4 linked regions of the Homo sapiens genome follow. The protein of the gene in region 1 interacts with the protein of each later gene in a pairwise test. Each region holds a gene or a part of one and is shown on either strand. Other genes may lie near its edges.

The links. Proteins that work in one complex are often made in the same cells at the same time.
Region 2: the proteins of TFIP11 (region 1) and BHLHA9 interact in binary tests that used the Homo sapiens proteins (3 or more experiments, as listed by UniProt).
Region 3: the proteins of TFIP11 (region 1) and HMG20B interact in binary tests that used the Homo sapiens proteins (3 or more experiments, as listed by UniProt).
Region 4: the proteins of TFIP11 (region 1) and DISC1 interact in binary tests that used the Homo sapiens proteins (3 or more experiments, as listed by UniProt).

What each region holds. Positions count from the first base shown.
Region 1 is NC_000022.11:26,495,474-26,498,973, reverse strand, and holds part of TFIP11 (tuftelin-interacting protein 11), read left to right. Parts: coding exon 1-105; intron 106-2,084; coding exon 2,085-2,253; intron 2,254-2,657; coding exon 2,658-2,901; intron 2,902-3,500. UniProt on the Homo sapiens protein: Involved in pre-mRNA splicing, specifically in spliceosome disassembly during late-stage splicing events. Intron turnover seems to proceed through reactions in two lariat-intron associated complexes termed Intron Large (IL) and Intron Small (IS).
Region 2 is NC_000017.11:1,269,215-1,272,315, reverse strand, and holds BHLHA9 (class A basic helix-loop-helix protein 9), read right to left. Parts: upstream 1,873-3,101; 5' UTR 1,753-1,872; coding exon 1,045-1,752; 3' UTR 501-1,044; downstream 1-500. UniProt on the Homo sapiens protein: Transcription factor, which play a role in limb development. Is an essential player in the regulatory network governing transcription of genes implicated in limb morphogenesis.
Region 3 is NC_000019.10:3,571,668-3,575,743, forward strand, and holds the start of HMG20B (SWI/SNF-related matrix-associated actin-dependent regulator of chromatin subfamily E member 1-related), read left to right. Parts: upstream 1-1,276; 5' UTR 1,277-1,327; exon of another isoform or gene 1,328-1,624; 5' UTR 1,625-1,642; coding exon 1,643-1,680; exon of another isoform or gene 1,681-2,024; coding exon 2,025-2,133; exon of another isoform or gene 2,134-2,150; intron 2,151-2,715; coding exon 2,716-2,919; intron 2,920-3,872; coding exon 3,873-3,993; intron 3,994-4,076. UniProt on the Homo sapiens protein: Required for correct progression through G2 phase of the cell cycle and entry into mitosis. Required for RCOR1/CoREST mediated repression of neuronal specific gene promoters.
Region 4 is NC_000001.11:231,633,290-231,636,789, reverse strand, and holds part of DISC1 (disrupted in schizophrenia 1 protein), read right to left. Parts: intron 1-3,500. UniProt on the Homo sapiens protein: Involved in the regulation of multiple aspects of embryonic and adult neurogenesis. Required for neural progenitor proliferation in the ventrical/subventrical zone during embryonic brain development and in the adult dentate gyrus of the hippocampus.

The sequences.
Region 1 (3,500 bases):
CTGCACTTATGGCACCGAGATCATCTCTAAGTGGAAAAGCCTCCTAGAGAATGACCAGCTCTTGTCCCATGGCGGACAGGACCTCTCAGCAGATGCCTTTCACAGGTACACCACAGAGCAGGGCTCTGTACCCCAGCTCCTTTCTCCTGGGGGGTTGGGAAGGATTGCTGAAGGTGGGGGAAGGCAGCAGTGCTGGCCTTGATTAATTCTCTGCTCATGCTGACAGTGCTTTAGGAATTTAAATTCATTTGGCTATGAATTTTTTTTTTTTAATTTTTTTGAAATGTTTTATTTCCATAGGGTTTGGGGAACAGGTAGTATTTGGTTACATGAGTAAGTTCTTTAGTGGTGATTTGTGAGATTTTGGTGTACCCATCTCCTGAGAAGTATACATTGAATCCAATTTGTAGTCTTTTTTTTTTTTTTTTTTTTGAGATGGAGTCTCACTCTGTCACCAGGCTGGAGTGCAGTGGCGTGATCGCAGCTCACTGCAACCGCCAACTGCCTGGTTCAAGCGATTCTCCTGCCTCAGCCTCCCAAGTAGCTGGGATCACAGGCACACGCCACCACGCCCAGCTAATTTTTGTATTTTTAGTAGAGACAGGGTTTCACCATGTTGGCCAGAATGATCTCAATCTCCTGACCTCGTGATCCACCCGCCTTGGCCTCCAAAAAAATGCTGGGATTCCAGGCGTGAGCCACCGTGCCTGGTTCAATTTGTAGTCTTTTATCCCTCACCCCCTTCCCATCCTTTCCCCGAGTCCCCAAAGTCCATTGTGTCATTCTTATGCCTTTGCATCCTCATAACTTAGCTTCCACTTATAAGTGAGAACATAAGATGTTTGGTTTTCCATTCTTGAGTTACTTCACTTAGAATAATAGTCTCCAATTCCAACCAACTTGCTGCGAATGCCATTATTTCATTCCTTTTTATGGCTGAGTCATATTCCATTATATTTATACCACAGTTTCTTTATCCACTTGTTGATTGGTGGGCATTTGGGTTGGTTCCACATATTTGCAACTGCGAATTGTGCTGCTGTAAATTTGTGTGAGCAAGTATCTTTCTCGTATATGACTTTTTTTTTTTTTTTTTTTTGAGATGAAGTCTTGCTTTGTCGCCAGGCTGGAGTGCAGTGGCACGATCTCGGCTCACTGCAACCTCTGCCTCCCGGGTTCAAGCGATTCTCCTGCCTCAGCCTCTCGAGTAGCTGGGACTACAGGCGCTCGCCACCATGCCCAGCTAATTTTTGTATTTTTAGTAGAGACAGGGTTTCACCATGTTGGCCAGGATGGTCTCGATCTCTTGACCTCGTGATCCGCCTGCCTTGGCCTCCCAGAGTGCTGGAATTACAGGCGTGAGCCTCCGTGCCCAGCCATGACTTCTTTTCCTCTGGGTAGATACCCAGTAGTGGGATTGCTGGATCAAATGGTAGTTGTACTTTTAGTTCTCTAAGGAATCTCCACACTGTTTTCCATAGTGGTTGTACAATTACATTTGGCCATGAATTCAGCTGACACTTGTCAAATGTCTGTTGCGTATCATGCTTGTGCTAGGTGCTGGGCTTACCCTAGGAGCACAGCAGACAGCCTCTGTCTACAGTACAGCAAAAAAAGCAGATGGGAAGTAAGGTAGTGAACAAATAAAGGCAGGATGCACACCAGGTACAGCGATAGAGAACTGCAGGAGCAACCTACTTGGAACGGGGGTTGGCACAGAGGTCTTAGGGGAGGTGACGTTGAAATTGTGATAAGAGGGTGAGAGGCATCAGCTCATGAATAGAAGCCTATAGGTGGGAAAGCACTTGATACCTGGGAAGAGGCCCTTGTGACCCTAAAGCAGCTCTGCCAGGTGGATGGGCACTACCTAGGAGACTGAGGCCTCAGATTGAGAGGAGAGTCAAGAGAACAAGGAAGAGGCAGGCTCAGTCTGGCCAGTATGGTGACTGGCCTGATGGTTTCCTCTGATTGGATTTCCATGCTGTTGCATTTTTATTCCTGATTCTAGAGAGGCAGGTGGTGGTGGTGTACTTTGAAACCAGTCAGTGTAATTAACCAGCCTGTCCTCTGCCTTTCTCCCATAGGTTGATATGGGAAGTCTGGATGCCTTTTGTTCGAAATATTGTCACCCAGTGGCAGCCAAGGAACTGTGACCCGATGGTGGACTTTTTGGATAGTTGGGTGCACATTATTCCTGTGTGGATCTTAGATAACATACTGGACCAACTCATCTTCCCCAAGCTGCAAAAGGAGGTGGGATGAGAGTCATGGGAAACAGTCGTCATCACTAATCACAGGGACTTGTTCAGTCTGTGGCTTCATTATCTCAGTGCTGTTAAAACGCCTGGAATTAACGGAATTTGTCAACACAACTATTGACCTATAGTGTTAATTCCAGCCTTTTTCTCAGCACTTTTTCCCCCAAGCCACCCTCAGGAGGGAATTCATTTTCTTGATTTTGTCACTAAAATTAGAATTGTGCTGTTTCTGAGATGTAATCAAATGGATGGGCATATTTGTTTGGCAATGTACAAAGGACTGTGGGCCTCAGAGAGCACAGGGCCTCCTCCAGGGGCAGCTCTTGCCTTTAGCCACACAGGGGTGTTATGTGACTGCCCCACAGGCGACATGAACTGTTTCTCCTCCCCACTTCGCAGGTGGAAAACTGGAACCCGCTCACAGACACTGTTCCCATCCACTCTTGGATCCACCCATGGCTGCCCCTTATGCAGGCACGGCTGGAGCCACTCTATTCCCCCATCCGTAGTAAGCTGTCCAGCGCCCTGCAGAAGTGGCACCCCAGCGACTCCTCTGCCAAGCTCATCCTCCAGCCCTGGAAGGATGTCTTCACTCCTGGCTCCTGGGAAGCATTCATGGTCAAAAACATAGTGCCCAAGCTGGGTAAGGATAAGGGGAAATGCATTCCAAGCCCAGCAGCTTTGGTGCCCTGGTTTCTGTGGTTAGCAGTGATGATTTAAAGCATCGCCTTTATGTTCATGAAAGTGCTTAGTACACAATATTCCTTGCTGTGAAAAAGGTAACATTTTGTTCAGAGGCTGAACATAAATGTAACTTGGGTCCTTTCCGCTGTTTATTTACAACAGTCACTAATAGTCGACAGTGACAATATCGGACTCTGTGCCTTGTGGTTTTCCCGATTGGTTTTGGCTTCTGGTAATAGGACAGCCATTGGAGTTCTAAAATTTTTGTGGTATTTTACTCTAAATTATTAGGGAGTTATTTCCAGGTTAGCAAAAAAAATATATATACATACACACACACACACACACATATATGTATATATATACACACATGCATATACATGTATATATACACATGTATATACACATATATGTATATACACACATATATATGTATATATGTATACACACACACACATATATATATGTGTATATATATACACATATATATTTTAAGAATCGCTATGTCGGGAGCTTAAATTTGACCTTTAAAAGCAGATTACAGCCTGAGCAACATGG
Region 2 (3,101 bases), on another chromosome or scaffold:
CAGAATCCTTCCTGGGTTCCAAGTCGGCCCCTCATTATGGGGGCCCTGGCCCACGGTTCCCTGGGAGCTCTTCCTGCCTGTCGCTCGGGGTACATGCACGCAGGACTTACCGGCCCCCAATCCTAGCCCTGCCCTTGGCCTCCTTCCCTGAGACCTGGCCAGAGTCCCCCTTCACTGTGGCTGCTTCCAGGCAGCTCTGCAGGGAGGTCCAGAGACGGGGCTGACCCCATCCTTAGACTCCCAGGCCCCGTGACCCCTCTCCTGATATCCTCTTCCACCCCAGGGGACTCAGGGAGGAGGGGTCTCTGGATGTCTCTTTCCTCCCCTTGGGCTCCCACAGTGCTCAGCCACACCTGGGGTCTTGCCATGAATGAGTTCCCCCAGGCGCCTACCTGTGGGCCTTAGGCCCCGCCCAGCATTCCAAGGAGAGCCCCCAGCCCTCAGGCGTTCCTGCCACCCTGGGCCACGGGGCCCACTGGAGTCGTGGTATCGGAGAGAAATGAGTTTTTCCTTTTATTTGGCTGCTGCCCCTGCCTGCCTCTCCCGGATCCTGCCTCTCCCGGATCAGGCTTGGGCAGCAGCGCAGGCAGGGAAGGGGACTCCGCACTCATGTGCCCACGAGACCACAGCAGGCCCCACCCGCATTCCCACGCTCCCACACCTCCTGCCTCAAAGCCCTCACTCTCCTAAAAGCATCGAGAACACACAGGGCTCGGAGGCGCAGGAGTGCGAAGGCGGCATTCCAAGACGAGTTCGAGTCCAAGATGAGTTCAGGATCCTGAGCCTTTCTGGCAACTGCCTCCCTAGGCTGGGATGTGGGGGCGCAGCCCCAGGCCCCGGAGCTCCTTCTCTCTGCCCCAGGCTGGGATGTGGGGGCGCAACCCCGGGTCCCGGAGCTCCTTCTCTCTGGCGAGCTCCTTCTCTTCCACGCCAGGTCTCAGCCGGTCCAGTTCTGCTCTGTCCAAGACGCCTTTGCAGTCCCGGGTTTTATAGTCCAGCTGCCAGCCCGGCCTCCCTGCAGCCCAGCCGGTGCCTCGAGGCCGGTCAGGAGCGCGGATGGCCCATCCCGGGGGCGGATCGCAGGTAGCCCCGCGGCCAGGGAGGCGGCCCGGCAGAGGAAGCCCCCGGACAGCGGCGCCAGCTTCCCCCGGAGGCCTGTGCTAGGCCCGGCCCCTCGGCCACCGCACTGGGCCGTGCCAGGGGCGCGTGCGGGGGGCACGAGGCGCAGCGGGGCGCGGACGGCACCGAGGGGCGGGCGGCGTCTGGGCGCGCGAGGCTGGGCCCTGCAGGCGGCGGGGGGCTGGCGCCTGTGTCCCCGGTGTCCCCGCGCGCGGCCGGGCCGTGGCACTCCAGGTGTCCGCAGGGCCCGCGGGGCGCGGGGCTGGCGCGCAGGACCAGGGAGAGCGCGGCGATGCGGTGGATGGCCCTGCGCAGCGTGGCGATCTTGGAGAGCCTCTTGCCGCCCAGGTCGTGCCGCAGCGCCCGGCGCAGCGCGTTGAAGGCCTCGTTGTAGTCTAGGATGCGCTTGCGCTCCCGCACGTTGGCGGCCATGCGCCGCGCCTTGGACCGCACCGGCCGCGCGCGCCTCCTGCCCGCCGGCTCCTCCGCCTCGCCCCGGCTGCAGGAAGCGCCGTTCGCCCCCAGCACCCCCGAATCGCCCCCGGGCTCGGGGCAGGGGCCCCCCAAGTCCTCCGCAGAGTCCTCGGCCCCCTTCCGCGCCGTGAGGCCTAGTCCTGGCGCGCCCCGCAGCATGGCCTTCCCGGGCACTCGCCCTCTGCCCCAGCCCCGGCCCTCTGCCCTCTGCCCTCTGCCCACTGCCTTGGCCCGGCTCGCGACGCGGACGGTCCCCGGCTCCTGGGGCTGGACACTCCCGAGACAGGCCCCTTCCAGCTGGGCTTTATGGCACCACGCGGCGCCCCGCCCTCCCGTCCATCCATCTCCCTCCTCCTGCTTTATTATCGGCCTCCAGGTAGGTCGGCGGGGGAGGAACCGAGGGGAAGAAGGAAAGCAAGGAGGGAAGCTTGCAGGTTCTTGTAAGCGGGGACCAGACGGGCAGCCCGGCCACGCTGCCCCGGGGACCTTGCCCTGCCTAGCTCTGGGGCCGCTGTGGGGTGTCTGGGTTCCACATTCTTCCTCCCCATTCCCAGATAAGGTGCTAAGTTTGGCTTCTAGCAGGAGAGCTGATAGGAATAAAAAGAGGCAGAGGGCCGGGCACTGGGGCTCACGCCTGTCATCCCAGCAGTTTGGGAGGCCGAGGCGGGCGGATCACTTGAGTTCAGGAGTTCGAGACCAGCCTGGCCAACAGAGTATATAAAACCCCGTCTACTAAAAACACAAAAATTAGCCGGGCGTGGTGGCAGGCGCCTGTAATCCCAGTTACTCGGGAGGCTGAGGCAGGAGAATGGCTTGAGCCCAGGAGCTGGAGGTTGCAGTGAGCCGAGATCGCACCACTGCACTCTAGCCTGGGAGACAGAACGAGACTCCGTCTCAGAAAAACAACAACAAAAACAACAACAAAACCTTGAAAGTTCTTGTCAAGTCCCGTGGGCAACCACAGAGATGTCACTGAGGAAAAGCATGAGTGTCCCGGCAGGACTCATATGGGAGGCGCAGGGCCCTGCAGGTAAAGCTGACCCAGAGCTTCCGGCTTTTTCAGCTATGGAGGGCGGCTGGCTGCAATTGGGGTTCGGGTTTTGGTTGGGCCTGACTCTCCCTCCACTGCCCTTTGACTCCCCTTCTGCAGGCAGAGCTGGGATGAGTCAGCAGCAGAGGGTGACGGGGAAGATCCCTTTGCAGCCCTGGGTCCACATCAGGGGCATCTTTGGGGTCCAGAGCCCTCGGGCAGCCCCATCTTGTGACACAGCCCTGCCAGGTTATGAACTCAATGAGCAGCCTCTGTCCTCTTCCCCCAGGGATTTGCATTTGAAAGAGGGTCTCAGAAAAAAGATGATGTTTATTCCCAAAGAAAGACCCCCAGTAGAATTTCCGGCATCCACAGCTGAGTTATTTGGAGCGCCTGAAGGCCACTCATTCCCAGTCACAATCCAAATGCCTCTAAGATGCCAAGGCCTATGGCATTGGAATGGGTGTGTGGTTCACAT
Region 3 (4,076 bases), on another chromosome or scaffold:
ATGAATGTGTATTGAGCATCCACCATGGGCAATGCTGTGAACCAAACAGGCAGGCCACAGGGAGAAGCCGACTTATGGAGGCAAAAAAAAAATCAGAGAAGGCCTGGCTGAGCAAGTGACATTTAAGCGGACTTGAGGAAGAGGAAGTGGGCCGGGCGTGGGGGCTCACGTCTGTAATCCCACCACTTTGGGAGGCCGAGGCGGGTGGATCACGAGGTCAGGAGTTCAAGACCAGCCTGGCCAAGATGGTGAAACCCTGTCTCTACTAAAAATACAAAAATTAGCCGGGCGTGGTGGCAGGCGCGTGTAATCCCAGCTACTCGGGAGGGTGAGGCAGAGAATTGCTTGAACCCGGGAGGCAGAGGTTGCAGTGAGCCGAGATCCAGCCACTGCACTCCACCCTGGACGACAGGGTGAGACTCCGTCTCAAAAACAAAAGAGGAGGTGAGCAGCCCCAACTTGGGCCAGAAGCCTAGACTGCTGCTGGGAGGTCCCTGATCCACCAGAGCGGAGCCTCCTGACCCATCCTCACGAAGTCCTTGCCATCTCCCTTCACCACCATCTTTCCCCAAACACTTCCAGCCCAGCTCCCAACCCCACCCCCTGCCTGACCCACACCCAGTTCTCAGCTTCCCAGCATCCCAGTCTCTCTGTCCTGGATATCGTGTGATGTCCCCGTTGCACAGGGGGGAAAGCCGAGACCCCAGAGGGAGAGCAGCCCCTATGGCCAGAAGCCCTCGGATCCGGACGTCGGGGGCTCTAAACTGAGTAAATACATAGGAAACTTCTCCGCTAGGTTTTGCAGGATGTTAAGAACAGGTCCCACCTTGCCTAGGGCTGGGGACTGCCTCGCAGGACCTTAACCCTAGCAACCCACCTCCGTCCCCATGGCAACCGGGGCGGGGCCCGACCCGGATCCGCCGGTCGCCCCATCCGGCAGCGGCTGGGAGTCTTGCCTTCAGAGAGGGAGGAGGAGTCCGCGCCTCTCCTACTGGCCCTTTAAGAGGCTCCGCCCGGCAAGTCCGCCACTCGCTCCCGATTGGTCCCGAGCGCGGCCGAGCGCAGCCGAACTTGACGCACCGCCCGCAGCCTTCCTTACCAACCTCCCACGCGACTCAGCAACCTCCCCAACCAATCGCCGGCCGGCGCGCCGATCGGTATCTGCATGGGCTCGCCCGGGGGGAAGGTCTCACCCAATGGGACCGTTCGCCGAGGCCTTCATTAGCATGCCGGGGGCGGGGAGGGGCGGGGCGGCCGACGGGGGCGGGCTGCGGGCGGTTGGTTGGAGCGTCGCGCAGTCGGGAGGTCCGGGAAAGTTTCTTTGGAGGTGAAAACAGCCGCGGAACTCCGGGCCCTGAGAGGGGGCGGGGGTGCAGGGGTCCCAGGGCCGGGCCGGGGTCTTTCCTGGCCCGGGGGAAACCGGCCCAGGCCTCCCGGGGGGGGCAATCGCCCAACAAAGGATTCTTGGGGCGCCCGCCCTCGAGGACTTCCCTGCCCCTGGATCCGGCCCCCCCAGCGCTCCGGGCCCGGCATCCCGGGGCTCTCCATCGCGGGGTACCCCAGTTCGCGGTCTGCCATCGGGCAGCCCGGGCGCTACTCACCTCCGCCCGCGTCCGTGTTCCAGGTCCGGCCCGGAGCGGCCATGTCCCACGGCCCCAAGCAGCCCGGCGCGGCCGCCGCGTGAGTGCACTGATCCCCTCCCCACGCCCTCGCTACTTTCCCGGCTGCAGCCCTAGCTCCTGAACCCCTGACCCAGTCCCTCCCGCCGGAGTCTTGACTCCCCCACCTGGGTCAGGGGGCTTCTCCCTCCACCCAATTCTGCACCCCCCACCTCGGCCTCCAGTCCCTCCCAGGAGCCCCGCTTGTCCCACCTTCCCCGGATACTGACCCCATCAGACCCTGCCTCCTCGGGCTCATGCACTCTCGCTGCAGCCCCGCCGTCGGGGGTCAAAACGCCCTGGGGTGGGCTTTTGGGGGAGGGGAGATTCTTGGGACGGGGCTGACCGCGGTATCCTTGGCTCCAGGCCGGCGGGCGGCAAGGCTCCGGGCCAGCATGGGGGCTTCGTGGTGACTGTCAAGCAAGAGCGCGGCGAGGGTCCACGCGCGGGCGAGAAGGGGTCCCACGAGGAGGAGGTGAGAGTCCCTGCGCTGAGCTGGGGGAGGCCCCGGGCTCCCGCCCCAGCCTCGAAGCCCCGCCCCAGGCTGGATTTGAATTGCTTGTGGCTCCGCCCACAGCCCATTTTCCTCTGGAAGCTGAGACCCCGCCCCGTGCCAGCTGCCACGCCCCTGACAGGTCCTCTGCCACTCTAAGTCCAGGCCCCGCCCACCGCACAATGCCAGCTCTGCCCACTCTAAGGTCCCGCCCACTTCCACTCCTTGGGGGCGGCACCCTCCCCTTGGTCCTGTGGGCCCGTTCTCCAGCAGAAAACCACGCCCACCAAGCAGAGGCCACGCCCACAACCGAAGTCAACGCCAACCCTGTACTCAAACCTCGGCCCATAGTTCCTCAGATCCCCTCACCCCTGGCCAGGGATCCCTCTAACCCACCGTGTCCCGACTGCTGACCGGGCCCTACCTCCATCTTTTCCGGGTTCTTCCTCCCAGCTAGGCCCCGCCCCCATCCCCGCCCATACGCGTTAGGCCCCGCCCATGCCCCTCTGAGCCCTGCCCCAGTACGCCAGGCCCCCCTCCCAACGACGCAGCCCGGTTCTGCAGCCGGTGAAGAAACGCGGCTGGCCCAAGGGCAAGAAGCGGAAGAAGATTCTGCCGAATGGGCCCAAGGCACCGGTCACGGGCTACGTGCGCTTCCTGAACGAGCGGCGCGAGCAGATCCGCACGCGCCACCCGGATCTGCCCTTTCCCGAGATCACCAAGATGCTGGGCGCCGAGTGGAGCAAGCTGCAGCCAACGGAAAAGCAGGTGGGCGGGGCGGGGCGCCGAGCAGGGCTGGCGGGGTCCACGGACTACCCCCCAGTAGCCCCGACCCCCAAAGGATTCCACGTGCAGGGTTTTTCCTTCTTCCTGGAGAAATGCCCACCCATAACCAACTTTTTTTTTTTTTTTTTTTGTGAGATGGAGTCTTGCTCTGTTGCCCAGGCTGGAGTGCAGTGGCGTGATCTCAGCTCACTGCAACCTCCGCCTCCCGGCTTCAAGCAATTCTCCTGTCTCAGCCTCTCAGGTAGCTGGGATTACAGGCGCGTGCTACCATGCCCTGCTAATTTTTGTATTTTTAGTAGAAATGGGGTTTCGCCATGTTGGCCAGGCTGGTCTCGAACTCTTGACCTCAAATGATCCGCCCACCTCAGCCTCCCAAAGTATTGATATTAAAGGCGTTAGCCACCGTGGCCAGCCCATGACCAGCTTTTGGGGGCGCGGCTAGCAAGAGGCAAGACAGATTGAAAACTGGATGACCAACAAAGATATGTCTAAGAAGTCAGGATGGGGCCTGGATTTTTTGCGAAACCCGATTTTCATATCCTGTTAGTTTAAAAATTGCAAAAACATCACGGAAATGTAACAAAAGCCATCACTGCTTTGCATCCCTGTAAGTGAGATTTCAAAGAGAGAAACGGGTGCGGGAGGGAGTCCAGGCATCCGCATACGCTGGAGGTTGGGTTCCTGCCCATGACTCTGGCGTCCGGGAGTGGTTTGTCAGGGCTGGAGGTGGGGAAGAGTCCGGGGCATGGGAAGTGAGGTGGGAGCTCGGAGGTCCCTGAGCAACAGGCTGAGGAGCCGGTTCTGTCTGCCTGGAGGGAATAGGGAGCTATAGAAGGTTCAGGAGAGGGGAGGGTGCTGTGAAAGCAGAGTGATAAAGACTGGATCCTGGCGTTGGAGGCTTCCCCTGCTTCAAGCCTTCTGGTGCTGCCCCCCAGCGGTACCTGGATGAGGCCGAGAGAGAGAAGCAGCAGTACATGAAGGAGCTGCGGGCGTACCAGCAGTCTGAAGCCTATAAGATGTGCACGGAGAAGATCCAGGAGAAGAAGATCAAGAAAGGTGGGAGGGGTCGGGCGCGGTGGCTCACGCCTGTCATCCCAGCACTTTGGGAGGCCGAGGCGGGTGTATCACCTGAGGTCAGA
Region 4 (3,500 bases), on another chromosome or scaffold:
GAATAAAATTTTAAAGGTAGTGTCAATATAAATTCATACCAAGATTAGCTGAAGGGAAAGTAACTCCCATAAGACATCTCATTTTGTTTCCACTGAGCCTGTTCTGACTCCTTGAAATGGCAGAAACAGGGGTAATAACAATATCTTTTATCATGTATTACCTTATGCTTTTCAAAAAAAGTTTCAAAAACACAATAAATATTTGAATAAATGCACTTAGATAATCCCAAATCAGAGTCAAGAAAATATATAAAAGTTAAATTCAAATGATAGAATTTGTCCATTTTTCCATTCAAATTACAATTTAAGTCAAGTAAAGAAAGACATACAAAAGCTGCATGATTAGGAGGGAGTGCAGCGCTCATCCTCCTGTCCCCAAGGCCGATTAGCCAGCTGGGTGAGAGATGAGATCATGAGTTCTGGGCCAATGAGTCACTGCCCTTCACCATTGCCCCCAGACACAAACAGCTGCAGGTCTCCCAAAGCGTGTGTCCACCCTACGGAGCTGCCACCCTACAGAGGAGAAAATGTGGGTGAAAGTAAGCAAAAGCAACATCACAACCATGAAATTAACTCAGTGTTCTACAAATGGAGAATTATATATCTCTTTCTGAATGAAGAGCAGCATATTTCATACACAGTGTGGAAATAAACATTGAGTAAATTGTTTTCAAAATTGTCATACCTAGGAGTAAACCCAGCAATAGGTAAATTATAAATTAAAGGAGCCCTTCTTTCTTCCTCCATCTATCCATCCATCTAGACTGTAAGGTATTTATTAGGCATCTACTGGTGCTAAATACTTCTTAATGATTTTAGTACACCCCGATGTGCCCAGTCCTTCTGATGAAACAATATCCGGAAACTTCATGAGAATGAATTCTCTTTTTTCCACGGGACTATAGGCTTCTCAATGGTGTAGACAACACTATCTATTTGAATTTACATATCAATTTACACATATATATACAAACATAAGTATATATATTTTTTATATTCAAGAGCTATCATAGTATCTGACTATATAGTGTATGCATCTCAATAAATATTTAAACTGAACTGAACTTCTGAAACTCCTGATTGGTTTCAAAAGATATAAAAATAATAGACTTGGTTAATCTATGCATTGGATTAATACATCCTAAATATAATTAAGAGTTTGGTCTAATCCAGTGAGAACAGAGTAAACCATAAGTGTACTACATAGATGAGGGAGTAAGGAGATAAACCAGAACTGAAACCTTGAGTTGAAGAAGTCTACATTGGAGTCAGAAAAACAGGTTATATCCATAACAAACTATAACAGAAGAAGGAGAGAGCAGACGATTCCAGAGAACCAGGGAAGGCTGAGAAGCATTATTGATTTGCTAGGTGGTAAATGAGGGATGACATTTTGATGCGTTCAGATTGGGAGCAAGAAAGACGGATTCTGTAATATTCTCGGTGGGCAGAATAATGTGCATAATAAAAAGGCCAGAGTGTCCGTTTTAAGTGTTTAAGGGCCAGTGTATGGAAAGCTTGAAAAGAGATGCTAAGAATTTGCTTGGGGGGAGATAATGAGTCTCTGAAAGCCCCTTCCACAGAGGAACAATAACCCAATCAGATCTGTGCTTTGTGAGGACTGTCCTGGCAGCAGTGTGCAGGCCTGATTGGAAGGAGTTACTCAACAGAGACATAATGACATAATCCAGTATCAGAACTGGGAAGACACAGGAAGGGCTGGAACACCTTCTGAAGAGGCATCCTAGGTGTGGCTGTTAAGCTCTAAGGCCTAAGAATACCAGGCTCCCTTAGTTCTCTCTAGACTGGATGGCCCTTGAGAACAATCTACATTTTTGGTTTTGGGGGAGTTTTTTCATTTTTTTTTTGAGACAGGGTCTTGCTATGTTGTCCAGGCTGGAGTGCAGTGGCTATTTGTAGGCACAAGCATAGCGCACTGCCACCTTGAACTCCTGGCCTCAAGCAATCCTCCCGCCCCAGCCTTCCAAGGAGCTGGGACTATAGGCATGCACCACCATGCCTGGCACTCTACATTTTTAAGTACCCTGCAATGTACAACACTGTACTGTGTATACAGTAGGTGCTAGTGTTTGTGAATGAATAAATAAACACAATGGAAGAAATTAATGGATAAGTTAATGTCTCTAGGAGATAATTCTATAAACTAAGGAACACAAAATGATTAATAGAGTCGAGGCAATTTAAGGCCCCCAAATCTACTGTTTAAATTGAATACAGATGCTCTATCCCCAAGGACAGTGTCTCACATTTCATTTTGCTTGGCCTGCAGCTATAACACAAGACGCTAGGGAAACATTAAGACTTGTACTGAAATACGCAAACTTTTTTTCTTCAGAAGATTTGTGATCCCAAAACAGCTCTTGCAACTCTAAGTTTCCAGTGTAGCAGAAATATTAGAACCCCGTTTTATCTCTGTATTTACTTTTTTTTTCACTTGACCATTGTAAAATAATCTTCCTTTTCCTATCAGTGTTGGAGTAAGATGAGGCATGCTTTCACTACAAATGCAAAACACGCACATTCTCCTGTGTTAAAAATAAAGTCCAATAATCAATCCACTCACAAACCAAGAGATGACAGGTACAGGCCAGGCGCGGTGGCTCACTCCTGTAATCCCAGCACTTTGAGAAGCCGAGGCAGGCGGATCACTTGAGTTTAGGAGCTCAAGACCAGCCTGGCCGACATGGTGAAACTCTGTCTCTACTAAAAATACAAAAATTAGCTGCACGTGGTGGGGCATGCCTGTAATCCCAGGTACTTGGGAGGCTGAGGCAGAAGAATTGCTTGAACCTGGGAGGCGGAGGTTGCAGTGAGCCAAGACTGCGCCACTGCACTCCAGCCTGGGCTACAGAGCAAGACTCCGTTTCAAAAAAAAAAAAAAAAAGATGACAGGTATGAAAAAGAAAAGTTAGGTAGGCGTACATGTCACAAAATGCAATTTCAACTCAGATTCCACATTCAGGACACAACTTACTCATTAAACTTTAGATATTTCACCTTTCAACCTGTGAAAGCGATTAGTCTCCATGCAAGGCCACCTGTCAAATGCACGTTTCTACTCCTGGTAGATTTGTTCATCTGGGCGAACATAATTGTGTTAATGATCAATATCAATCCTAGACATGTACAGCTCTGGGGAGTTAAAGTAGCTACGACATTCGGGCAGATGACTGCAAAGAAGCTATCTAGGCTTCCTGAAATGGAACCACCTGGGCAAGGGAAGGAAGCAAAATGTGGAAGCCCAATGAGCAGGGAATAGGAAATTTACACAGTAGCTCAAATCCTGCACAATCCCAATCCTGCAGGACAACGATCACAGCATCTTAGCACTGGAAGGGTTCCCATTCATCATCCAACGCAGCCCCCTCCCCAGTGCAGAACCCTCATGACAGTCACCCTAGAGTCATCCACACTGCCCTACATACTTCCAATGACAAAATGCTCTCTGCCTTTCGGGGTAGCCTATTCCATCAATGGAT